Homo sapiens: one gene and its partners. The protein of the gene in region 4 interacts with the protein of the main gene of each other region in a pairwise test. Each region holds a gene or a part of one and is shown on either strand. Other genes may lie near its edges.

What was found.
Region 1: the proteins of RHOXF2 (region 4) and TOLLIP interact in binary tests that used the Homo sapiens proteins (3 or more experiments, as listed by UniProt).
Region 2: the proteins of RHOXF2 (region 4) and RBFOX2 interact in binary tests that used the Homo sapiens proteins (3 or more experiments, as listed by UniProt).
Region 3: the proteins of RHOXF2 (region 4) and CERCAM interact in binary tests that used the Homo sapiens proteins (3 or more experiments, as listed by UniProt).

What each region holds. Positions count from the first base shown.
Region 1 is NC_000011.10:1,292,633-1,299,663, forward strand, and holds part of TOLLIP (toll-interacting protein), read right to left. Parts: intron 5,933-7,031; exon of another isoform or gene 3,896-5,932; coding exon of another isoform or gene 3,824-3,895; intron 3,163-3,823; coding exon 3,013-3,162; intron 1-3,012. UniProt on the Homo sapiens protein: Component of the signaling pathway of IL-1 and Toll-like receptors. Inhibits cell activation by microbial products. Recruits IRAK1 to the IL-1 receptor complex. Inhibits IRAK1 phosphorylation and kinase activity.
Region 2 is NC_000022.11:36,018,811-36,025,841, forward strand, and holds part of RBFOX2 (RNA binding protein fox-1 homolog 2), read right to left. Parts: intron 1-7,031. UniProt on the Homo sapiens protein: RNA-binding protein that regulates alternative splicing events by binding to 5'-UGCAUGU-3' elements. Prevents binding of U2AF2 to the 3'-splice site.
Region 3 is NC_000009.12:128,416,493-128,423,880, reverse strand, and holds the start of CERCAM (inactive glycosyltransferase 25 family member 3 isoform a precursor), read right to left. Parts: upstream 3,025-7,388; 5' UTR 3,004-3,024; coding exon 2,807-3,003; intron 2,678-2,806; exon of another isoform or gene 2,370-2,677; intron 2,359-2,369; exon of another isoform or gene 1,095-2,358; intron 1,014-1,094; coding exon 903-1,013; intron 736-902; coding exon 618-735; intron 1-617. UniProt on the Homo sapiens protein: Probable cell adhesion protein involved in leukocyte transmigration across the blood-brain barrier. Does not express any beta-galactosyltransferase activity in vitro.
Region 4 is NC_000023.11:120,161,597-120,166,145, forward strand, and holds the end of RHOXF2 (rhox homeobox family member 2), read left to right. Parts: intron 1-1,861; coding exon 1,862-2,191; 3' UTR 2,192-4,034; downstream 4,035-4,549. UniProt on the Homo sapiens protein: Transcription factor maybe involved in reproductive processes. Modulates expression of target genes encoding proteins involved in processes relevant to spermatogenesis.

The DNA of each region.
Region 1 (7,031 bases), on a different chromosome or scaffold from region 4:
CATGCTGTTCTGGTGCAGGAGACACTGTGGACACCGTGGGGACACACGGGCACCGCTGCCTCCCCCACAACGGGCAAGAGACGCACGTCAGACAGCAGACACCGTGGGGACACACGGGCACCGCTGCTTTCCCCACAATGGGCAAGAGATGCGCGGCAGACACACAGCGCAGCAGACGGCGTTACCACTGCAGGGAGTGACCAGCTAGGAGGACCGGGTATGCGGGCTGCAGGATCTGGAGGAAGAGCTGCAGGAAGCGGGAGGAGAACGGCCAGGGAAGAGGAAGGTCAGGAGTGACTAGGGTGAGGAAAACATGGGCCCAGCTGGAGCAGGCTCGGCAGGACAGTGCCCACGAGAAAGGCCCACGCGGGAACGGACCTACTCTGGCCACGCTGCAGGGGCTGAGCGGGGGCAGTGGGTGGGTGCGGGGGGCTCCAGGCCTGGACGGGCTGAAGGTGGCGCCTGTGCTGAGGGTCAGGCCTGAAGGGCAAGAGGTGGACATGAACCTGGAGCACCAGCAGCACGAGGGCTTTGGGCCTCAGCTTCCAGAGTGTGGGGCAGCCACCTGCGGACACGGGGGAGAAGCCGGGAGGGTGGCCCGAGAGCTCCACCTTGGGCACACGGAGTCCGGAGTGCCCACGGAACACCTGGGGAGGCCATGTGGCCATGGTCCGTACCTAGGGATCTGGGGTGGAGCTGAGTGGTCGGCTCAGGCTGGGGCCAGCACATGGGTGTTTAGACCCACAGGGATGCAGAAGTCACCGGGATGTGTGGGCAGAGAGGGGAGGAGGGCTGAGGACCAGACCCCTTGGCATCCCACTGGGGCCCCAGGAGACAACAAGGGGAAGCAGCGAGGGGACGCAAGCAGGGAACCACCTGTGTGGCCGCCCAGAAGCCAAGAGAAGCAGGAAACAGGGGCTGAGCTACCTGGCCCAGTGAGGAGGCAGGAATGTTTCCCACCACTGGAGCTGCGCCACAGAAGGCTGGGTGAGCTCACGTGGAGGAAACAGGCTGCCTGTGGTGGGCTCCAGGGTGCGGGAGAGGACCAAGGGGGGCCAGAGGCGTGGGCAACGCCAGGGCCACCTCCAAGGCCCAGCCAGCTCTGGAGCTTGAACTGTGTGAGGTGGAGTGCCCTGCGGTCACCAGGCCCTGCCAGGAGGTGGCGGCTGAGGACGGGTGATGGCACTGGCTGGCCTGGTGGCAGCTGGCACAGGAATGCATGGGCTTACGGGAGTTCACTGGGTGGGCAGAGGGATCGGCCACACCAGCACAGTAACAGCTGCACAAGCAAGGGTCTGAGACACGCCGCGAGGAAGGGGTGACGGTGTAGCTGTGCTCACCACACCATGAAGCCCCTGAAAGCAAGTCTTATTTGTGAGGTCCACGGCGATTCTTCTGCCTGCTGTATTTGTGCATTTCTATGAAAGCCGCGTGGCTCACAGTGTGTCTCCTTTCCCTGCATTTCTACGAAAGCCCGCGTGGCTCACAGTGTGTCTCCTTTCCCTGCATTTCTACAAAAGCCCGCATGGCTCAGTGTGTCTCCTTTCCCTGCATTTCTATGAAAGCCGTGTGGCTCACAGTGTGTCTCCTTTCCCTGCATTTCTACGAAAGCCCGCGTGGCTCACAGTGTGTCTCCTTTCCCTGCATTTCTACGAAAGCCCGCGTGGCTCACAGTGTGTCTCCTTTCCCTGCATTTCTACGAAAGCCCGCGTGGCTCACGGTGTGTCTCCTTTCCCTGCATTTCTACGAAAGCCCGCATGGCTCAGTGTGTCTCCTTTCCCTGCATTTCTACGAAAGCCGCGTGGCTCACAGTGTGTCTCCTTTCCCTGCATTTCTACGAAAGCCCGCGTGGCTCACAGTGTGTCTCCTTTCCCTGCATTTCTACGAAAGCCCGCGTGGCTCACGGTGTGTCTCCTTTCCCTGCATTTCTACGAAAGCCCGCGTGGCTCACGGTGTGTCTCCTTTCCCTGCATTTCTACGAAAGCCCGCGTGGCTCACGGTGTGTCTCCTTTCCCTGCATTTCTACGAAAGCCCGCGTGGCTCACGGTGTGTCTCCTTTCCCTGCATTTCTACGAAAGCCCGCGTGGCTCACGGTGTGTCTCCTTTCCCTGCATTTCTACGAAAGCCCGCGTGGCTCACGGTGTGTCTCCTTTTCCTGCATTTCTACGAAAGCCCGCGTGGCTCACGGTGTGTCTCCTTTTCCTGCATTTCTACGAAAGCCCGCGTGGCTCACGGTGTGTCTCCTTTCCCTGCATTTCTACGAAAGCCCGGGTGGCTCACGGTGTGTCTCCTTTCCCTGCATTTCTACGAAAGCCCGCGTGGCTCACGGTGTGTCTCCTTTCCCTGCATTTCTACGAAAGCCCGCGTGGCTCACGGTGTGTCTCCTTTCCCTGCATTTCTACGAAAGCCTGCGTGGCTCACAGTGTGTCTCCTTTCCCTGCATTTCTACGAAAGCCTGCGTGGCTCACAGTGTGTTTCCTTTTCCTGCAGTCTTACAGACGGTTTTCGTGTGATCAAAATCGGCGTTCAATCTGCCGATTTTGGCTTTCACTTGAAAGACCACTAAGCAACCACGGGCCGGCCCCGAGGCTGACCGAGGGCTGCTCTGTGGGGAGGGAGGGTGCAGGCACCGGCACTGAGGCCAACAGGAAGCCACTCACGCAGCACACACCAGGTGGCGGGGGTGCCGGCCGCGCCTCCTCCAGCTGCCGGCGGGGGTCCGGGAGGTGTCCTTGGGCGTACTCAAGCCTGGTGGAAGAGCCAGGCCCTACACAGAGCAGACGCCCACCTACACCCACTACTCATCACTTGAGTTATGTTTGGTAGAACCCGGGGTCAATGCCAATATCTTTCACACAGATCGTTTTCAACATCACACAGGTTTCAGGAAAAGCGGGAATCAGAAGTTCTGTTTGCCCGCTTAGGAAATGCAGTATAAACGCCGAAATCCGAAATCCCACCCCCACCGAGCGCACCAGCCCCAGGCAGGCAGGAGGGTGCCCCAAGGCCCACCTGTACCACCGTGATGTTCAGTCGGCCCACGGTGCCCACTGCGCCTCCGTACTGCAGCTGCTGGGCCGCCTGGGCGTCCAGCTGGACCTGCCGCTGCTGCTGTGTGGGCGTGATGCGGAGGAAGTCCTGCGGGAGCTCACCGATGTACACCTGCGGGGCCGGGGACCAGAGAGGCCAGTGAGTCAGGGTGGGGGCACAAAGCAGCCCGACAGCAGCTGCCCCCGGCATTCCCGCGGCCCCGCCCCCACCCATGTCCTTATCAAGTCCTGGACTGTGCTCAGCCTCAGTTTCCTCATCTCTAAACGGAGGGGTCAAGGGTGTCCAGCCTGGGGCCTGGCCCCCAGCGGTACAGGTGCAGCCCTCACTCAGGAGATCCCCAAATGCAGGTTTCTGCCGCTAAAAATGGGTTCCTGTCCTCAAAGCCTGCTCAGGTGGGTTTTCAGGTCATTTTAAAGGGTCTCCCTTGCACCATGTGTGCCCACGGCTTCTTTCTCCTTGTCCACAGCTAAAGGCAGGGCCACTGAACTGCAGGTCACTTGGTCAAACGAATGAGACAAAAGCTGAGCCTCAGGTCTAAAGTGATTTGGAAAACCCTCTGCTGATATACTTCAAATGTTTCCACATGAAACAGCTGAAATTCAAAAGTATCCCAGAAGAACGCAGGAAGTAAATCGATTCCAAACAACCACGAAAGACCTCCCCACTCTGCATCCTATGTCTCCTCGACCCTCTGTCCACCACTGCCACTTCTGAGGGGAAGAGAGAGGATGGGCCCAGGCAGGACAATGCCATCCCGAAACCACCCGCACACCTGCAGCGGCCGAAGGGGCCTGGGGTAAACCATGCTCCACAGGTGAAAGGTCGCTGATGAGGCCCTGAGCATGGGTCTGGCTGCTGGTGGAGTGGGGTGGAGGCCTGGTTGCTGGAGGAGTGGGGTGGAGGCCTGGTTGCTGGTGGAGTGGGGTGGAGGCCTGGTTGCTGGTGGAGGCCTGGTTGCTGGAGGAGTGGGATGGAGGCCTGGTTGCTGGTGGAGTGGGGTGGAGGCCTGGTTGCTGGTGGAGTGGGGTGGAGGCCTGGTTGCTGGAGGAGTGGGGTGGAGGCCTGGTTGCTGGTGGAGTGGGGTGGAGGCCTGGTTGCTGGTGGAGTGGGGTGGAGGCCTGGTTGATGGAGGAGTGGGGTGGAGGCCTGGTTGCTGGTGGAGTGGGGTGGAGGCCTGGTTGCTGGTGGAGTGGGGTGGAGGCCTGGTTGCTGGTGGAGTGGGGTGGAGGCCTGGTTGCTGGTGGAGTGGGGTGGAGGCCTGGTTGCTGGTGGAGTGGGGTGGAGGCCTGGTTGCTGGTGGAGTGGGGTGGAGGCCTGGTTGCTGGTGGAGTGGGGTGGAGGCCTGGTTGCTGGTGGAGTGGGGTGGAGACCCAGCCGTCTGCAGGGGCCCCGGTCAGCGCCAGTGCCCTGGGCAGTTGTTTTCAGGAAATACCGAGTGGAACCTGGAACCCTCGGTGTGTCGGACGTGAGCTTAGGCAAAGTGCACGTGCTGAGGCCGCCAGAACGCCTCTGCCATGCACACCAGAAACCCGTACCTGCCTGTGCCATGGACTCCCAATGACACGGTGCCAGGCAGGGCTCCAGGAGGTTCTGAGTTAAGCCCTGCACCTGCTGTGCTCTGGGCGCCTGGCACTTCAAAGGACCCCGAGAGGGTCTAGCTCCTCACCTGTGTCCCCATCTAAGGCCTGGAGCGCACAAGCCAGTCAGCGCTCCACAACCAATGTGAGTAAACAGAAGGGACCCGGACGATCCAGGCACCGCTTCGAGCAGTTACGGACTCAGGACCCCCAAGTTCGGGAAGCTCTCTGCAGGCTGCACCCCAACCTGAGCAGCCAGCATGGCGTGTGCTCAACCGCTCTTCTCTAAAAAGCAAAACACACTTTGTGCGTTTCCCCACACTTTACCCCGTTTTTGACTGGGACACGTCACGAGTGACCTTTGCCCTGTGAGAGAAGCCGTACTGCGAGAACAAGCAGAGCACCCCGGCTTCACCTCCGGAGGGTGTGGCATAGGCCAGGGCCCGGAGGGACCCCCTGCCCTTACGGACAATCGAGGAGGGTGCAGAGGTGCCTGAGCGGAGTGGGCCCATGCCAGGAGTCCCAGGCCAGCCTCCCCCAGGCAGCCTCTCTCGAGGCGCTGTACAGCTCAACAGCAAGCTCTGGCTCAGGAGGGCGCTGAGAGGCCCCATGGCACGAGATGCTAAGCACCTGTTCCTGTTGGCACACAGGAAACACTGGGGTACAGAAGGCCAGGGCCCTTCGCCTGCCTCCCAGAAGGATTCACAGCCCAGAGCTCTCTCCCCGGGGGACACCTGGCCACACAGGACGTGCTTCCCTGCCAACCCCACAGGGCCCTGGCACAGCCCATGCCAGCAGGCTCTATGACTAGCTCTGTCTGCTCACCAGGAACGGGTTATCTTGCAGAAACAGACTCGTGCTAACCAAGTTCTCAGGACTAACATACACAGGCCAAATTCCTGTTTATTTGTGACAACTGCTTCCTGTGTGCCACATGCACAGCTCTGAGGACATGGCAGGAAAAGCACCGTATCTCCTGGGCACACATGGCAGACAGACAGGCGGCTCGTGCCCTCCTGGGCACACGTAGGGGACAGACAGGTGGCTCATGCCCTCCTGGCCACACGTGGGGGACAGACAGGCGACTCATGTCCCGGAGACAGCAGCATGGAGAAGCCAGTCGGGGGAGGGTGTGGGTGGTCACAGGGACGTGTGGGCGTGGGGTCCAGAGGCCTCTGAGGGAGCACTGTGGGTCCCTCGCTGCTCTGGATCCTGGTTGTCCCGGTATTTGAAGGCGTCCAGCGCTCCATCTCCTTGCTCTGCACTCTTTAGGTGTCCGTTAAAGACAGTGGGACTGCTCATTACTGGGAGAAAATAAAATTATATCCAAAGGCCTAATGATCAAGTGTCATTTTTCAACAAGGATTTAACCATAAAATGGCAAATAGGAAAAGAGGGTTTTTAAACATAAACCGTGTGGATAGAACACGAAAAGGGGAGAAGCAGCTCCCTGCGGATGGAGCTCATCAGCCCCACGCAGCCCGGGGACCGCAGCCAGCGCCATGTGGCGGGGCAGGTGCGCGTCCAGCTCCCCGAGATGACACACGCCTCACATCTGGGTTTTCTTCCCAAAAACCCACACCCCAATTAAGAGACATCTGACAAAATCCCTGACCAGTCAGTCGTCCTCAAACCGTCAAGGTCCCAAAAACACAAGGAAAGCCTGAGAGACGGTCCCAGATTGGAGATGGCAGACATGATGGCTAAACGCAAGGCAGGGTGCTGGGACAGCAGGGGACAGTCATCGAAAAACCAGGACAGCCAAATAAAACCTGGAGCCAACAGTCATGCCCCCAGCTCAGCGCCACAGCTGTGAGAGCTGTTCCCGGGGAGGGGAGCGTCGGCCAGGGGACATGGGTGAGACACACAGGACCTCTTCGTGCCAGCTTTTCAATTCGTCATAAGACTGAACACTACAAAATTCAAGGTTTTTCAGAAAAATATTCCATTTAACCTGAAGACAGGAAGAGCAAGAGAGGAGACGGAGACCAGGCTTCAGTCCTCCCCGTACAAATACTGGTTACGCAACCTGCTGCCCCGCCTACCAGGGAGAGGCGGCTTGCCTGCTGCTGCAATGCCCTCGTTTCTCAACTTAGAGCAAAGCCCTTCAAACGAGGAGGGAGTGCTACCAGTTCATGCTTCACGAGTCACAGGGGAGAGAGTCCAGGTGCTGAAGTAAACCCTATCGTTTCAGTGACGACACTCGGTCCTTCAGTAAATGTCTATTTTGAATTTATTTTTTAAATTCAGTGCTAATCCTAAAATTTATTTTTGCCATATGATGATGGAGGAACTATTTCAATGGTCACATAAAAATATATGCTTTACCCTGGTTCAAAGGCTTGGAAATATGAAAACAAAAATGATTACTCCCGATACATAATGGATATTTTTCTAGAATTT
Region 2 (7,031 bases), on a different chromosome or scaffold from region 4:
ATCATGTTGGCCAGGCTGGTCTCGAACTTCTGACCTCAAGTCATCTGCCCGCCTCAGCCTCCCAAAGTGCTGGGATTACAGGCATGAGCCACCGCACCTGGCCAGATTGGCTCTTTTAGATAGATCACTGTGTTAGCAGTCTGGAGAGCGGGTTTGAAGAGACTGAAAAGGGACCACAAGAGACAACACAAAGGCATCCCAGCTCAATTTCCATAGACAAAATGAGAACAAAAAGTGCCACTTTTGAACCAACATACGTAACAAAACTTATAAAATTTGAAACACGACATTTTTACTGTTCCTGCCTTCCATGTACCACTAAAACAGCCAGTGAATCTGTCACCCACCCTCCCAACAGAGATCCCACGGGTTCTAAGAAATCCACATCCCCCCTGCAGACACTGTGATACTGCAGCAGTCCTTTCACTCCTTAGCAAAGAATTGTCTCCCCTTCCTCTGACAAGAGAGACCACAATGACCCAGTTCATTCCACTCCTCCACCCTGGATAATGAGCAAATGAGGTTTCCCCTTTAACACACTGCTCATCTCTAGTAGTTCCCAACTCTGGCACTTAATCAATCAGAAGCACATTAACCACTCCATGCAGATTAAACAGTAAGCAGGAAGTTAGTGAGTGCTGTATAGCAGGATATAAGGAAAGCAAGAAATAAACATGTAGTGCTGGGTTCCTTGATAGGCACCTTAAAGAATCTCAGTTCTCATTACAGTGGTTTATAAGAGTATACATTAATTCTCCCAGTTCACAGATGTGTGAGCAGGAGCTCAGAGATGTTGAATAGCTCATTCATTTGGTAAATGGAGAAGCCAGGATTCAAATCCCAAAATGAGAAGCTCTAAATGGTGTTTATTTACTACACCATATTTCAAGTATATATGGATAACAAATATGATTACATATTAAGGTTAGTAATAAAAATATCTCCCCTTTAAAAACAGAGAAGGGACTCATGGATAGGAAGAATCAATATCATGAAAATGGCCATACTGCCCAAGGTAAACTATAGATTCAATGCCATCCCCATCAAGCTACCAATGACTTTCTTCACAGAATTGGAAAAAACTACTTTGAAGTTCATATAGAACCAAAAAAGAGCCCACATTGCCAAGACAATCCTAAGCCAAAAGAACAAAGCTGGGGGCATCACGCTACCTGACTTCAAATTATACTACAAGGCTATAGTAACCAAAACAGCATGGTACTGGTACCAAGACAGAGATATAGACCAATGGAACAGAACAGAGCCCTCAGAAATAATACCACACATCTACAACCACCTGATCTTTGACAAACCTGACAAAAAACAAGAAATGGGGAAAGGATTCCCTATCTAATAAACGGTGCTGGGAAAACTGGCTAGCCATATGCAGAAAGCTGAAACTGGATCCCTTCCTTACACCTTATACAAAAATTAATTCAAGACGGATTAAAGATTTAAATGTTAGACCTAAAAGCATAAAAACCCTAGAAGAAAACCTAGGCAATACCATTCAGGACATAGGCATGGGCAAGGACTTCATGACTAAAACACCAAAAGCAATGGCAACAAAAGCCAAAATTGACAAATGGGATCTAATTAAACTAAAGAGCTTCTGCACAGCAAAAGAAACCACCATCAGAGTGAACAGGCAACCTACAGAATGGGAGAAAATTTTTACAATCTACCTATCTGACAAAGGGCTAATATCCAGAATCTACAATGAACTCAAACAAATTTACAAGAAAAAATCAAACAATCCCACCAAAAAGTGGGCAAAGGATATGAACAGACACTTCTCAAAAGAAATTTACGCAGCCAACAGACACATGAAAAAATGCTCATCATCACTGGTCATCAGAGAAATGCAAATCAAAACCACAATGAGATACCATCTCACAACAGTTAGAATGGCGATCATTAAAAAGTCAGGAAACAACAGGTGCTGGAGAGGATGTGGAGAAATAGGAACACTTTTACACTGTTGGTGGGACTGTAAACTAGTTCAACCATTGTGGAAGACAGTGTGGCGATTCCTCAAGGATCTAGAATTAGAAATACCATTTGACGCAGCCATCCCATTACTGGGTATATATCCAAAGGATTATAAATCATGCTGCTATAAAGACACATGCACACGTATGTTTACTGCAGCACTATTCACAATAGCAAAGACTTGGAACCAACCCAAATGCCCATCAATGATAAATTGGATTAAGAAAATGTGGCACATATACACCATGGAATACCATGCAGCCCTAAAAAAGGATGAGTTCACGTCCTTTGTAGGAACATGGATGAAGCTGGAAACCATCATTCTGAGCAAACTATCACAAGGACAGAAAACCAAACACTGCATGTTCTCACTCATAGGTGAGAATTAAACAATGAGAACACTTGGACACAGGGTGGGGAACATCACACAATGGGGCCTGTCCTGGGGTGGGGGGAGGGGGGAGGGATAACATTAGGAAATACACCTGATGTAAATGACGAGTTAATGGGTGCAGCCACACCAACATGGCACATGTATACATACATAACAAACCCGCACGTTGTGCACACGTACCCTAGAACTTGAAGTATAATAAAAATAAAAAATAAAAATAAAATAAAAACAGAGAAGGGACATATATCCTACGGTCTCAGATTAAGGGATCACTCACAAAAGTGACAAACGATCACAACTGGAATCTCCAAATGCTACTAAAAAAAAAAAGGTCACTTCTGAGCATTAGTGACCAAAAAATGTTCAGACTCAAATAATCAAAGCAATCTGGCTATCCTCCAGAGAAATATCTCAAATCCTCCACACACTTTCCCCTCAGAGTCCCTAAGACAATGTTTGAAAAAACTCATGGCTGACTGCTCATTCTCTTGAGTAAATGACTTCCCAAACTACTTTGCCCACCCAAATTACAGAAATGCGTCCAGGATTCACATGGCAGTTCTGATCCGATTTGTCCCAATCCTGGCTCAAGCAGCTTTGCTACTTTCCTAACTAGATCAGCATCAGCCAATGGGTTTATTCAAGCTGATCTGTGATGGATTAGATAATGAAACCTTAGCCATGTAAGCTGCCTGCTTGTATTGGGGTTGTAGAGGAGAATAAGAAGAAACTCAATACTCCTAGGGGCCACCTAAAACACCAAATGTACTCACCATCCCTCACTCCATCTGTCTGCTCATGCTCCAATTACTGCCATTTCCTTCCAATCATGTCTGTGGTTCTTCCCTCCTGCCTTTGAAGGAAGTGCACATTTGCCCCAGAATAAAGATGTTTACTATGCTTTACAAATGTATATCAACAAAAATTCAAAGAAATCTGCTTACTAAAATGACTGTCTTTTTCTACAAATTATTAAAGCCTGACATCAAACTGAAGGCCTGAGAGATGTTAAACTAGAGATTCACTAGCAACATTCTTGTTTATACAAAGTAGCATAACTCAATTTCTTTCTCAGCAGTCCTGTAAACTTGAGGCCTGTCTGCACCAGTCTGCTTTACAGCAAAATGAAAGTTAAATTTCTAGTTAGCTTCTGTTGTGTTCACATGTCAGCGTGATAGTGAAAAAAAAATGACAGAGTAGCTAGAAAATGGGAGGGAGTTGGGAGACAAACTCAACTCAAGCTAATCTCTTGAGTCACCCTGAAGAATAATTCTACTTTGAAATCAGATCTGACTTTCTCCTTCTCAAATACATTTCCAGTTTTACATCTGCAGACTTCCTTGTAAGACATGGGGAAAAAAGCAACAAGTTTTACATGACTGTTCCTCAGTTTCTCCATCTACAATATTTACCACTCTGGTAGTGTTACAGGCTTAATGTCTGTGTCCCTCTAAATTTCGTATGTTGAAGCCCTAACCCCAGTGTAATGGTATTTGGAGGTAGGACCTCTAGAATTAGCTTCAGATTGGGTCATGAGGGTGGGAACTACATGATAAATGAGTGCCCTTATAAGAAGAGGAAGAGACCACTGACTCTCTCTCCCCCAGGGCACAGACAAAGGAAAGGCCATGTGAACACACAGCAAGAAGACAGCTATCCACAAGCCAGAAGGTGGGCCCTCACCAGACATGAAATCTGCTGGCACCTTCATCTTGGACTTCCCAGCCTCCAAAACTGTGAGAAATAAATGTCTGTTGTTTAAGCCACCCAGTCTATGGTATTTTGCTGTGGCAGCCCAAGGACACTGGGACAGGGAGAGATGAAAAATTCAGTAATTTCAGTGAAATATTGTTCATGAAATTACTTGCAAGAAAAAAAAAACACAATATTTTTATAACTCTTCTTGAATGGTAGCACCATGCTTAGTTTCAGCACCAAATACCAAATGAGGGCACAAAGAGACATCCACCTATGAGGAAATAAGCCCATAAATAAGCAAATGGGAAGATAAACTACTTCAATAAACACAGCATCTACAAAGCAACTTCAGGCTATCTGGAACCCCTTCCCTGAAACCTGAAAGAAAGTCATCTTACTACTAGAATCAGCTGCTAATAGGAATAACTGCTGAACCCACTTGGCTAAACTGGATTTATGACTCTATGGTGAGAAGCGGTTACTTGGCCATATAATAATTATACCATATCAACATTTCACTGACACAAAGAATTCTGCTGAAAGCTATAAGTAATAAGGTACATCTTACCTTATACAGCAGCTAAACTCTTAGAAAACTGCACAAAAATAAAATTTTTATGAATCAAATTGTTCACTAGAAAAGCTGACCAAAAGAATTCATTCCCCACTACATTGTATAGAGCGTAAATTTCATACATATTAAACTTAAAGTGAAATGAACCTCTAATAGCCCTATATTTAACTCATTTAACTTCCCACAAACTTTGAGTACAGTATTTCCAAGTACTCTCTTTAACTACATTTCTCAAACTGTACATCAGCTTTCCAGTTGAGTTTGTCACTTCCCTCCTACTCTCTGGTTCACGTTTCTCTATTTCTGTACTCTTTCCAGGGCTGCACTGACTCCTCTTCCACCTACATCAAGTTTCTGTATACTGCCTTTGAAAGCACCGACCCTTCCTCTCTTTCTCCTAGGGTTCCTTCTGAGCCTAAGGATTATAACAAAAGCATCACAGACTCTCTGGCGTTTCCTAAACTCCATTTTGGTAAGTGATGATTTACTCCAAAAGCTTAGTGGTACAACTTAACAAGATTCAACTTTGGAATCTAACGCTTAGCACTACAGCTCCATTTAGTAAGCAGCCTTGGGAATGACCCCAGTAAATGAACTTATTCTATAAAAAGCGGTTAATCCTTTGACATTCAAAGTGCCTGGAAAATTCTGTGATGATACCCTCACTCTGGAATTTCACAATTTTTCTTAATCCTTAACTATCTGTAAAAGGTAAATTTCAATTTCAATTTAACAGGCATTGAGCACTTACCAAGTACCCAAAACTGTTAGGTATTACGAAGGATAAATACAAAGGAAATATAGTTCCTATCTTTTAGAAGCTTACAATCTTAGCAGTGAAACAAGAATAATAAAACAATTAAGGGACAATAAAAGATGACACACAATTAAGCATCAATATACCAAGAGGCAAGAGTAGGATCGGAATGGTGTGAACTAAGCTGTCAGGGAAGGCTTCACAAAAGGAGTTAGAAAACGTGTTAAGAAAACAGGCCAGGTGCAGTGGCTCATGCCTGTAATCTCAGCACTTTGGGAGGCCAACGCAGGCGATCACCTGAGGTCAGGAGTTCGAGACCAGCCTGGCCAACATGGTGAAACCTCATCTCTACTATAAATACAAAAATTAGCGGGGTGTGGTGGCACATGCCTGTAATCCCAGCTACTCAGGAGGCTGAGGCATAAGAATTGCTTGAACCCAGGAGGCAGAGGTTGCAGTGAGCTGAGATCAAGCCACTGCACTCCAGCCTGGGCAACAGTGAGACTCCATCTCAAAAAAAAAGAAAAAAAAGACGTGTACTTTAAGACAAACCCACATACCCAAAACACTGGCTACGATAAGATTTTTTTTATTTTTTTGAGACAGATTTTCGCTCTTGTTGCCCAGCCTGGAGTGCAATGGCGCAACCTCAGCTAACTGCAACCTCCGCCTCCCGAGTTCAAGTGATTCTCCTGCCTCAGCCTCCCTAGTAGCTGGGATTACAGGCGCCTGCCACCACGCCTGGCTAATTTTTTGTATTTTTAGTAGAGACGGGTTTCACTATGTTGGCCAGGCTGGTCTCGAACTCCTGATCTCAGGCGATCCACCCGCCTCAGTCTCCCAAAGTGCTGGGATTACAGGCGTGAGCCACTGCGCCCGGCTAAGATTTTTAAAGTGTGTATTTACATAGGGCCTATAGATATTTCTAAACCACTGATACCATCTCCTAAGACTACCTGCCCTTGCTCTCTCTGCTCCAGCTATTAATACATTGGTCTCCTGTTTCCAAACAAACCAAGCAGTCTTTCTCAATGCCTGTGCACCCTCACCTCCTCTACCTGAACCCTCTTTCCGAAAGCATCTGAATGGCCCATTACCTCACTTCACTCATAGGCCATCTATCTTAAAGCCCTTCCGTAACCATCTTCATTCTCTCCCTTTCCATCTCTCCCTTTCCCTGCTTTTTCTTTTTAGCCCTTATCACCACACAATTATAGTTGTTGATTTATTAGATGTCTCTTTCCATTCAATATTAGTTCCATGACAGCAAGGGTTTTTTGTTGTTGTTGTTCACTATTATATCTCTTAGGGTTAAAACAGTGCCTGGGATGTAGCAGCTGCTTAATAAATGTTAGTTCAATGAATAAACATTAAGTATATTCATGTAATACTCTCACACTTCTTTAAAAATGCACGCTTCTTTAAAAAAAACTTTTCGCCCATTTGTCTCCCCACATAGATTGCATGCACCTTAAGGACAGTGAACTGGACTTATAACTTTTAGAAGGTAACTTAGAACTTGGCCGGGTGCGGTGCCTCACACCTGTAATCCCAGCACTTTGGGAGGCCGAGGTGGGTGGATTACAAGGGAAATCATCTTGTACACATACTTTATT
Region 3 (7,388 bases), on a different chromosome or scaffold from region 4:
ATCCAAACACCTACTCTGAGCTCTAGTTCAGAGATCCAGGCTCAATTTATACCCTGGGCTCTAGCCCAGAAATCGAGGCTCAGTAAAGTGTATACAACGGGATCTATCTGAGGGGTCCAGGCTTAGTACCTAGTCTGAGCTTTTAACATAGGGATCCAATCTGAACATCTGGTCTGGGCTCTGGCCCAGATAGCCTGCCGAAGGATCCAGCCTTCGGGTGGGTCAGTCACATTCAGATTTCTTTTTCTTTTTTTTTTTTTTTTGAGACTGAGTTTCACTCTTGTCACCCAGGCTGGAATGCAGTGGCATGATTTCAGCTCAGTGCAACCTCTACCTCCCAGGTTCATGCCATTCTCATGCCTCAGCCTCCCAAGCAGCTGGAATTACAGGCGCCTGCGACCACGCCCAGCTAATTATTGTATTTTTAGTAGAGATGGGGTATCACCATGTTGGCCAGGCTGGTCTCGAACTTCTGACCTCAGGTGATCCACCTGCCTTGGCCTCCCAAAGTGCTAGGATTATAGGCGTGAGCCACTGCACCCAGCCTATACCCAGATTTCTATCAGGGACGGATACTACCGCCTTTCAGAAGCCCGATTCTAGCCAGACTTCCTCACCAGGATATAGTCGGCCCCCCAGTTCCTGGCAAAGGTGAGGGCTTCCTGCTTCAGCTCCATCAGAAACTGGTGCCTTTCTTTGGTCCAGTGCTTGGGACCCTCTTCATCTGGGTAGAACCTGAGGGGATAGAGGTGAGATGTTCCCATGGGGTACATGCCCCTCCCTCTCTGCAGGGCAGTGGACAGAGCCCTGGCTTGGAGGCTGTGGCTCTGGGCTGTCCCTTTTCCTCTCTGGGCTGCAGCTGTTCTCCATCTTCCCCAGCACCCTTCCCCTCAGATCACCACCTGGGCTCGCCCTCAGGCCTCCAGACCACAGCAGCATAGTCATCGCCCACAGCCGCCAGCCACTCCTGCAGCATCTCTGTGGTGTTGTCCACATTGTGGTCCGTGGCACACCTGGGGACGGGAAGAAAAAAGGCTGAGGGGGCACAGCCACAGGATTGAACCCCAAGGCAGCCTTGACCCCAAAGCACTAACACCTTTGAGGTCGAGCTCTCCTTGGAACAGTGAAGGGTAGGTGTGCTACAGCAGAGAGGCTGGAGGCAGCACAGCCAGGTCCCCACCACAGTTCTGTGACCTGCTGTGTGACCTCAGGCAAGTCCCATCTTTCTCTGGGCTTCACGTCCTCCCTCTATAACTTAAGCTGTCCTGCTTATGTCATGGACAAAGATAAGAGAAGAATAATGCATTTTTTTTGAGATGGAATCTTGCTCTGTCGCCCAGGCTGTAGTGCAGTGGTATGATCTCGACTCACTGCAACCTCCGCCTCCCGGGTTCAAGTGATTCTCCTGCCTCAGCCTCCTGAGTACCTGGGATTACAGGTGTGCACCACCATGCCCGGCTAATTTTTGTTTGTTTAGTAGAGATGGGGTTTCACCATGTTAGCCAGGCTGGTCTTGAACTCCTCACCTCAGGTGATCTGCCCACTTCGGCCTCCCAAAGTGCTGAAATTACAGGCGTGAGCCACCACACCTGGCCAACGAATGCATTTTGAAAGATGAAAAGTACCTCGACTTTAAGGATCACACCTGGTGCATTCCCTGGTTACCTTCGTTAGGTGGGCAGATACCTACCTATGTGACCTGTGGCTGTGTGACCACAGGCCAGCCCCTGTCCCTCTCTGAATGGGGACTAGACAGAAGAGCTGCTGCTTTCCTCCACCCCCAGGTTGTAATAAGGACCAAACCATGCTCTAAGCGTCCCTAAGAATGCAGATGGGTCCAAGCTCTGCTGTCATGGGGCACAGCCTCCCCTCTCCTGGGGAAGGGGCCCCCATAACAGAGGTGGGGGTTTAGCCAAGTGCCCAGGTTTTGGGTGATGCTGCCCCTTTAAGCCAATTCCCCAGAAATGAAGACTACGTGTCAAGTCTTACAGGGGTGGGAACTAACAAACTCCCAAACTGTGGTAATTGTGGGCGGCCTCCCCAGGCCAGGGCTCCACCCCCCCAGCCCAACTGTGGTGTGTTGAAGAGGGTGGCTTGTCATTTTTCTCAGTTTACCCCCAACCTCAGCCAGGGACTCCTCCCTGTTCTGGTGTCTACAGACCAGGGGTTGTGGCCTTCGATCCCAGTGCCCTGGGGGTACAGAGATGCCAGAGGGGAGAGGCTCCAGGAAGGGGGACTGCCCTTGGCTGACAGGATCCCGCCCCTCTACCAAGATCTACCAAGAGAGCTGGCCCCAGCACGGGGGCGGTGGGGGGGCCGGTCTGACTCCCCTGCACAGCCCGGAGCCCAGTGCTGATGGCACCCCCAACCTGTGCCCGGAAGCCTCCAGCGTGGTCGATCCCTGCCACGTTGGGCCCCAGTGGACTTCAGAGGTTCCTGTCTGCTCCTCTTCAAATCCAGCCAACCACAGGTCCCACTGGGGTTGAGCTGGGCCCTGAAGGCTGGGGTGAAAAGGGCTGGCTGGGCCCAACCTACACCCAGGGAAGGCCCCAAGAGGAAGGAGTAGGGGACCAGAAGGAGGGGTGGGTGTCCCGCGTCGGCCTGTGGCCTCAGAGGTCTGTCGTCTCCCAGCAGGGGGCTCGGGGTCCTCTCTGGCGGCTCGGGCTGGCAGGGCCGTCTGTGAGGGGAGGGGCCTGTCTAGGTGGTGTCTGGGCAGGGAGCGAGCAGACAGGGCCGCCGGGGGCGGGGGCCATCTGCGAAGCTGGGGGTTAGGTGCCCACTCGGTGCCAATGCCCGGGTCTCTCACCAGAGGGCCATCCTGGCCCGGGGGTAGTCCAGCCGCTCCAGAGCGCCCAGGTAGTGGGGCAGCGAGTGTTCGGCATTGCGGGCCAGGATGGCAAGGACCACGGCGGGCAGCGGCGACTCCGCAACGCCCGCAGCCTCCAGCCACGGCCCCAGCAGGAGCAGCAGCTGGAGCAGCGGCGCGGCGCGGGCAGCGCGCATGGCGGGCGCTTGGGCGGCTGCAGCGGCCCCCGGAGCTCTCGGGCCGGCCGAGGGGAGGGGGCGGGGCCTGGGGCCCGGGCGGGGCCGAGGCAGACCCGGAGAGGGCGGGGCAGTGCACCCTCAGAGTGGGATCCTGCTCCCCACCCCTGTGCGTGGATGCTCAAGTTTTCTCTCCTTGGCCCGGGGCACCGGAGGGCCAGGGCCCGGGGACCCGCGCCAGCCGCGACCCTGGAGCAGCCCCGCCCGGCTGGACCCCGGAGGGGCGACGGCGGAGGGGCCGGAGGACCGGACAGGGGAGGGGTGCTAGGACGAGTGCGTCGGGGCCGGCCGGGCGTCCGAGAACAGTAGGGGCTCATGGAACCCCTGGGCGTTGAACCCCCGGAATCCGGATTCCCCGGCCCACGCAGCCGACTCTTCGACCTGAGCCGCAGACCCAGAGGGGCGGCGCCCACTCGGCCACCACCTCCCGGGCTTCCCCGGCTCCCGCCCCATCCTCCGCCCCGGGCGCCCTCTGGCGGCCCTGGCGCTAGCTCCGCAGACCAGCCGGGCCACGCGTGGGCCGGAGACCCAGCGTGGGGGGCGCAGAGGGAGTCCCCCTGAGCTGGGCGCGTCCTCCCGCGGCGGTCCGCTCCTTAAGTCCCCTGTGCGTCACCTCCTTGCGTCGGTCGCCAGCACCCGCATTGCTTCGGCCCTTTAAGAGAGCACAGCCAGGCCGGGCGTGGTAGCTCACGCCTGTAATCCCGGCACTTTGGGAGACCGAGGCGGGAGGATCACCTGAGATCAGTTCAAGACCAGCCTGGCCAAGATGGTGAAATCCCATCTGTACTAAAAATACAAAAATTAGCCGGGCGTCGTGGCGGGTGCCTGTACTCCCAGCTACTTGGGAGGCTGAGGCAGGAGAATCGCTTGAACCCGGGAGGCGGAGGTTGCAGTGAGCCGAGATCGCGCCACTGCACTACAGCCTGGATGACAGACCGAGACTCCGTCTCAAAAAGAAAAAAAAAAAAAGAGCACAGCCCTCACAGCCCTCTCTTGGTCTGAGTGTAGAACTAGGGGACACCACGGAGCTGCTCACTGCGACCCGACCCGTCCGTCCTCCAAAGCAGGGGATGTTGGCTCCCCTGGAGCACCGCCGGGGTCCTTAGGACCCTGCTGGGAGGGAAAGAACTCTGCAGCCTCTCGGGAGAGGAGCAGAAAAGGGAGCGGCCTGGCGGCACCACAGATGGGATCGAACTGGGTGTCTGTCACCAACCTCAGACAGGTCCCTTTCCCTCAGGAGCCTCTCGGGTAAAATCGGGCTGATAACGCCACCCATCTGGGAGGGTTTGCAGGGATTCCTCGAGAGAATGAATGCACTGGCAGCTTTTCCCGCGTGGAGGCTTACACACAGGAAGAGCTCCGCCCTGGGGCTGGGAAGACAGGACTGGAGGAGAGGGAGGCTCCCCCTTCACCCTCCCACCGCTGGGAAGATCTCCTTTCCTAGGAACAGCACGGGGTCTCCCTTCAGCCTTTTCCCAGGGTCAGGGAGGGGAGCCAGGGCTGTGCACACTATCTCCACTGCAAGGGGAGGGCTGAAGGTCCATAGAGGAAGGAACTTACCTAGTGCAGGGGCAGCACGTGCGCACTGAACCCTGGAGTCCTGATCTCTAGCCTAGCTCAAAGCCTCCACCAGGATCGGGTGGCAGCTTCCATTTGAGGCCATTTCTAGGCCAGCGGCCCTGCAATGAGAAGCATTCTGGAGAGATGCCAGATTTCTTCTCCCTTGCACGGTAGTCCCCTGCGGGAAGCCACTCCCAGCCCCAGAAGAGGGATTCCCTTTCTAAAGCAAAGCAGTGTTCCCTACTTCACCCACCCCAGAGTCATTCCACAGCCTCTGCCTGTCCTATTGGTCCAAGGGTGCTATGGTCAGAATGTCCGTGACCCTCAAAACTCACATGTTGAAAACCTAATGTTAATGTCAGGGTATTAAGAAGCGGGGCCGGCACGGCGCGGTGGCTCGCGCTTGTAATCCCAGCACTTTGGGAGGCGGAGGCGGGCGGATCACGAGGTCAGGAGATCAAGACCATCCTGGCTAACACGGCGAAACCCTGTCTCTACTAAAAAATAGAAAAAAATAGCCGGGCGTGGTGGCGGGCGCCTGTAGTCCCAGCTACTCAGGAGGCTGAGGCAGGAGAATGGCGTGAACCCAGGAGGCGGAGCTTGTAGCGAGCCGAGATCGCGCCACTGCACTCCAGCCTGGGCGACGGAGCGAGACTTCTGTCTCAAAAAAAAAAAAACAAAAAACAAAAAACAAAAAAAAAAACAGGCGGGGCCTTTGGGAGTTGATTGGGTGGGCTGCCCCACCTGAATGCGGCTAGTGCCCTTATAAAAGAGGCCTGGGGGCCGGATGCGGTGGCTCACGCCTGTAATCCCAACACTTTGGGAGGCTGAGGGGGGTGGATCATGAGGTCAAGAGATCAAGACCATCCTGGCCAACATAGTGAAACCCCATCTTTACTAAAAATACAAAAATCAGCTGGGTGTGGTGTCGCGTGCCTGTAGTCCCAGCTACTCAGGAGGCTGAGGCAAGAGAATCGCTTGAACCCAGGAGGCAGAGGTTGCAGTGAGCCAAGATCATGCCACTGTACTCTAGCCTGGCAACAGAGCGAGACTCCGTCTCAAAAAGAAAAAAGAGGCCTGGGGAGCTTGTCAACCCCTTCTGCCACATGAAGACACAGCTAGAAGGCCCCAGGTATGAGGAACGGGCCCTTACCAGACACCAAATCTGCTGACGCCTTGACCTTGGACCTCCCAACCCCCCAGAACTATTAGCAATAAATTTCTTTTTTTTTTTTGGCCAGGGGTTGGGGGGTGGTTCAAGCAATTCTCCTGCTTCAGTCTCCTGAGTAGCTGGGATTACAGCCACACACCACTATGCTTGGCTAATTTTTTGTATTTTTAGTAGAGATGGGTTTTCACTACGTTGGTCAGGCTGGTCTCGAATTCCTGACCTCAGGTGATCCAGCTGCCTCAGCCTCCCAAAATGCTGGGATTACAGGTGTGAGCCACTGCACCCGGCTGATAAATTTCTGTTGTTTATACATTATGCAGTCTAAGATATGTTGTTATAGCAGCCCAAACGGACTAAGACAGGGGGCTTCCTGATTCTTCCCTGGCCTCAAGTCCTCCTCTTCCCCCAAGTCCTCCCACCCTCCCCAGGAGTCCAGCCTGTTACTAACTTTCTTGCCTCAGAGTTTTCCCATCACACCTGCCTGGAAAACCCAATAGCCATCTTGTTTTGGGGCAGGTTGGGGCAACTGCAAACTCAGGGTCTCTACCCTCACTTGGGCTCTCACCCAGCCCAAGAATCCTGTTTCCCTGTGTCCCCTGCCCACTCCCCTCAGGGCATTTCAAATGCTTCTAGTCATTGAGGCACGGTGGCTCATGCCTGTAATCCCAGGACTTCGGGAGGCTGAGGTGGGCAGATCACTTGAGGCCAGGAGTTCGAGACCAGCCTAGGAAACACAGTGAAACCCTGTCTCTATTAAAAATACAAAAAAAGGCCGGGGCAGTGGCTCACACCTGTAATCCCAGCACTTTGGGAGGCTGAGGCAAGTGGATCACCTGAGGTCGGCAGCTCAAGACCAGCCTGACCAACATGAAGAAACCCCGTCTGTACTAAAAACACAAAATTAGCTGGGCATGGTGGCGTGTGTCTGTAATCCCAGCTACTCAGGAGGCTGAGGCAGGAGAATCACTTGAACCCAGGGGGGCAGAGGTTGCAGTGAGCCGAGATCGCGCCATTGCATTCCAGCCTGGGCAACAAAGGCGAAACTCCGTCTCAAAAAAAAAAAAATAGTAATAATACAAAAAAAAATTAGCCAGGTGTGGTGGCACATGCCTGTAGCCCCAGCCACTTGGGATTCTGAGGCAGAAGAATCACTTGAACCTAGGAGGTGGGAGTTGCAGTGACCTGAGATCACGCCACTGCACTACAGCCTGGGTGACAGAGTGAGATTCTGTCTCAACAAAACAAAACAAAACAAAACAAAACAAAGCCTCCAGTCTTCTCAAGCCCCCATTCCACCGCCCCTCTCCCCCAGCAAAGATCTCTCTACTACTTTTTGGAGAAAATAGAAGCCATTACCTGGGAACTCTCATTTCTAGCCTCCAAACCTTCCACCTCTGCCCTCAGCCAGCCTCAGGAGGCACACCCCTCCTCAACAGAACGGCCCCTGTGAAACCGCCTTTGCAAATTTGTAACTCAGGAAATTATGACAGCGGAACAAATCAGACCTAACTGATTCTGTCTTGCTTCTAACCCTTAAGCTGTCCTTGTTCACTCCTGGGCGTAGGCTGAACTAACTTTGGGAAGGAATTCAGTTCATGGTTTGACTCTGAAACAA
Region 4 (4,549 bases):
AAGAAAAGAAAGAAAAATCGGGATGACCTTAATAGCTTTTCTGCAGAGCTCATGTGTGTGAGTGCAGTGAGGGAACTATGCTGCGGTTCTGTCAATGGTGGCATGCAGAAAAGCTGCCTGACAAAACGGGGCACTGAGTGTTGGCATCCTGTTGCCCTCCATTTTCTCAGGCAGGCAATGCCAATTTGGGGGAGATGAAATATTGACGTTTTGGTGAATTGCCTTTCCCCTCCCTGGGTTTACATAGCATTCACTCAATGCAGTTCTGAAGGCAAAAGGACCACTCTCACTCAGCAAATAAGGAAAAAGGCATGATGTTCTCATCTATTGCCAAACATTTCAGCATGAATATCTCCAAAAATTTTTAATAGATGTTTCCCCCCTCTGTTTTGTAAAGATAGTAAGGGCTGGTTTATGAAACCGATACGGAGACTAGGGACCTAATGTTGTCCCATAGCACATTTGGCCCACTTTTGGCATTGCTTATGTTTATGAACCTTTGACCACAGGTACATTGGAATTGTCTCTAAACAAGCACTATTACGGTAGGCTTAAAATTTAGACTATGTATTCATGAGGGAGAAGGACTCCAAATAGTAAGATGGGAGAAGGAAATGGGGCATCAAACAGGGAGAAGAGTCCCTTTGTCCCATAAAATTTGCAGTTTGGGAACTTCCAGAAGGATCAAAATACAATGGAAATGTCATTAACTAGAAGCTTGGGGGATAGTGTTGTTTAATTGACAGGTTTTATTTTTTGGTCTTTTAACAATTGGCAGGTGTTTGGGGAGTAGTGTTTTTTGATACCTCCTCCACATTACTACTGAACGTGTTCAGAGTTGCCTATTTGGACACTCCCGCTTTGGGAATGCTGATGAGATTGGGATCTTCTGCTCGAGTAGTGAGGCTAGATGGCTGAAGGCGTCCCATGGAACTGGGCAACCAAGTCTCTGTCCCATATCCCAGGACTATAGGGAGAACAAAGTGAGCTGACCTTGTCCTTAGCCCAGGAAGATTTGGAGGGAGGGATGAGTTGGAGCGTGCAGAATTAGCAATGCTTCCTTTCTCTCAAACTCTCAACTGGGCAAAGCTTTTTGAGAATTTTTGTGAATTTGGACAACATTTGTGTCCTCCTTCCACAAAGCTTCAAGCTGAAGTGTGAAGAGTGTCCAGGGCTTCAGATACCCTCATTTCCCAGCAAGACAATCCACAAACTCCCTGGGCCCCCTATAACGAGACTTGCCTTGCAATATACCATCTTTTTAATTCTCAAGGAGTTTCAGAAGATGAATGACCCCTTAGAATTTCTTGAAGGAAAGAAAACTTGTTTTAAAATACAATGTACTCTTACCGATTTTTTACTTTACACTGAAGATGGGCTTTTCAAAACGGGGGCCTCATCTTCTTGGTATGACTTTAAAAGGCACCCCCGCCTTTTTTTCCAAGCTCAGCTTCCCCCACGACCAGGGTGACAGTGGCCTAGTAAGTAGGAGTTGGTGGGCAGCTGGGTAGCTGATGGTCAAGTATCTGCAAGCAGACATGCCACACATAGCAATACCAGCAGGGATCGAGTCCCACTCATCAGCTACACCTGCACCCAAGAGTGGAAAAAGTAATATTACAGATAAAAGGAGAGAGACAAAGAAATAAGCCAAGCCAGAGCGTACGTAGCACATACTTGGAGCTCACTAGGGGAAAGGTGTGGTGGTCACCTTTCTAAGATATTTTAGTAGTAAGGAAGTAGCTTGTCTTGATACACCCGAAAAGGTTAAGGACATAGAGAGTTGCTTGTTGTGTTTTTTTCCATGATGAAATTAAATGCTCAGTATACTAAACCTGTTTCTTTTTTCCTCTGATTGAAGATTTGGTTTGAGAATAGAAGAGCCAAATGGAGGAGACATCAGAGGGCATTAATGGCAAGAAACATGCTGCCCTTCATGGCAGTGGGCCAGCCTGTCATGGTAACCGCAGCTGAGGCCATAACGGCACCCTTGTTCATCAGCGGGATGAGAGATGATTACTTCTGGGACCACAGCCATTCCAGCAGCCTGTGTTTCCCCATGCCACCCTTTCCTCCTCCGTCCTTGCCCCTTCCACTCATGCTTCTTCCACCTATGCCACCCGCTGGCCAGGCTGAATTTGGCCCATTCCCTTTTGTTATCGTGCCTTCTTTCACATTCCCCAATGTCTAAGGGATAGCCTCTGTGCCACTTTTTGCCAGAGTGTCTTTGAGCCAGATTCATATTTTGCATAGCACCCCATCAAAAGTAGTTCATCAAATGTCTATTAAACGTTTTAAAGAAAAGTACATCATTGACCCATTTTTAGGGCACTTGTAAAAATGTTTCTATAAATATGTGAAGGGTATGTACATTTGTTTTGTGTGTCACATGGGGTCAGTAAGTTCTCAATAAAAATTGTTAAGAAATGCCATTCAAACCGAATGTCACGGACTCTCGTCTCATGCAGTAATCTTGAGTCACCATCTGGGGGCTGTGCATGTCACAGAATTTTCCCATGTGCCCATGGCAGGCTTACACCGACCCAGACATTCTCTTCCACCCCCACCCCCAACACCCCATACTCATCTCCTCTCTGCCCCCATTGATACCAGGTACATGTGCAGGATGGGGTGGTGTGAGTCCCTAATGAGAGAATAGTGTGTTTCAAGTTACTGCCAGGGTGGAAAACAGCAAAACCAAAATGGTATCGGGAAGGAAGCCATGCCCACTCTTAAAAATTCATTAAGTTTTTTCTTGCTATGGAAGACTTCTTTAAAGTAATTTTCTTGTAAAAGTGTAAGTGTAAATAATGCCATGAAATTATACACTTATTTAATGGCTAAAATGGCAAATTTTTATATGGTTTACCACAACAAAAGAAAAGAAAAAATATACCAAAAAGTTTTTAAAAAGTGATCATGAACATTGTGGTCATCCTGTGAAGTGATTGCAATGCCTGCAGATAAGGAGTGATGGTTACAACAGTATTTTCTCTGAAAATTATTTGATGGCCAGTTTCATAATGATTATGTTTTCAGCCTGAAGGAAAATTCCATTTTCTTGGGTGAGCATGAACTTTCTGTCAGGCTGTCTGCTGCTTTTCATTCCCCACTTCTCTCTTCACAATTGTGGGTGTCAAGCTTCAGCCACGCAATTGCATTTGGTGTGAGGGTTTTGCAAGGAGAAGGAGGTTTATTCATACCCCTGAAGCCACAAGCCTTGGTGGGAATAAGGAAAGTCCATGAATTCACTATGCATTAATGCATGCCTCTTGGCCAAGTGGATTCTTTTTTCTTCTCCGATTGAGATTTTCCTTTTTTTTTTTTTTTTTTTTTTTTGCTCTTGTTCTCATTGTATTGTGCTTTGTATAATTATTTACAGTAAGTCGCGCATGTCAGTGTACATTCCGTCTGGAAATTGTTTCCATTTGGTACATTTTGTGCCAGTCGGTCTATTCCTGCTCATTATTTTGTTTTTTCTACATTCAGACTGAAACATTTGGTAGCCTAGAGATACTCAGAAATAGGCAAAGAAAGGTAAAAGGGGAGGAGGGGAGATTGAAATCATACTTCCATTATCCCTCCCCGTGGTTATCAGATTCATAAAATTTTTACACCATCAAAAGACATTTTTAGCCATATATGTTTCCTTTATGTAGAAAATGAGATCTCCTATACTCAGTTGGCATTTGTTTTCATGTATCTGATAAGTACCTGTTAGAATTATAGGTCAAGATGTTGTCTAGCTCTGGTAACCTAGATCCTGAACTTCAAAGCAGAGTTCTTGGACCTTAAGAAATTCAAATTCGTAGAATTATAGTTAGGATGTCATTTACTGACCTTGAACAACACATTGTTTAGGTAGCATACAATGGGACTAGTTCAAGGGGCTGGGTGGAGAACAAGTTACAATTTTTTCTGATGGAGAACATTACTGGAGACAGTACCCTTTAAAACTTTCATTCCCTTTTTATTAGCAGCTAACGTCTTGTATGCCTTTACTATGTGACAAGCAATAAAATAATGTCCTTGGATGATTTTGTTTGATGCTCAAATGAATCCTAATAGTGAGGTTCTAGCATCTTCATTGAAAGAAGAGGAAACTTATCCATGGTGCAAAGCTAATCAGAGGAACAGGATCTGAAGCCAAATTTGTCTGCCTCCAGAGCCCATGCTTTGTCAAGTTTAATTCAGCGGTGGTGCACTGGGATGCCACAGTTAGGGCAATCTGGCTTCCAATCCCAGATGCACCACTTCCCAGCTGTTTCCCCCTGGGCATTTTACTTAAGCTCTGTAGTATCATTATTATTCTCTATAAGATGATAATATTATATCACAGAATTGATGAGAGGGATAAATAACATATGTAAGTGGCCTTCCACAATGCCCAGCCAGAGTAAGCACACAGAAATGTTTTCTACTATTATTCTATATTATCTCCTATCATCATATTATTATAACCTGTTGTTCCACCTTTCCTATGTGGTATAACAGAAAGAGATCTGATTAAAAATAAGGTGGTCTGGGTTCTTGCTGCAGCTCTACGCTG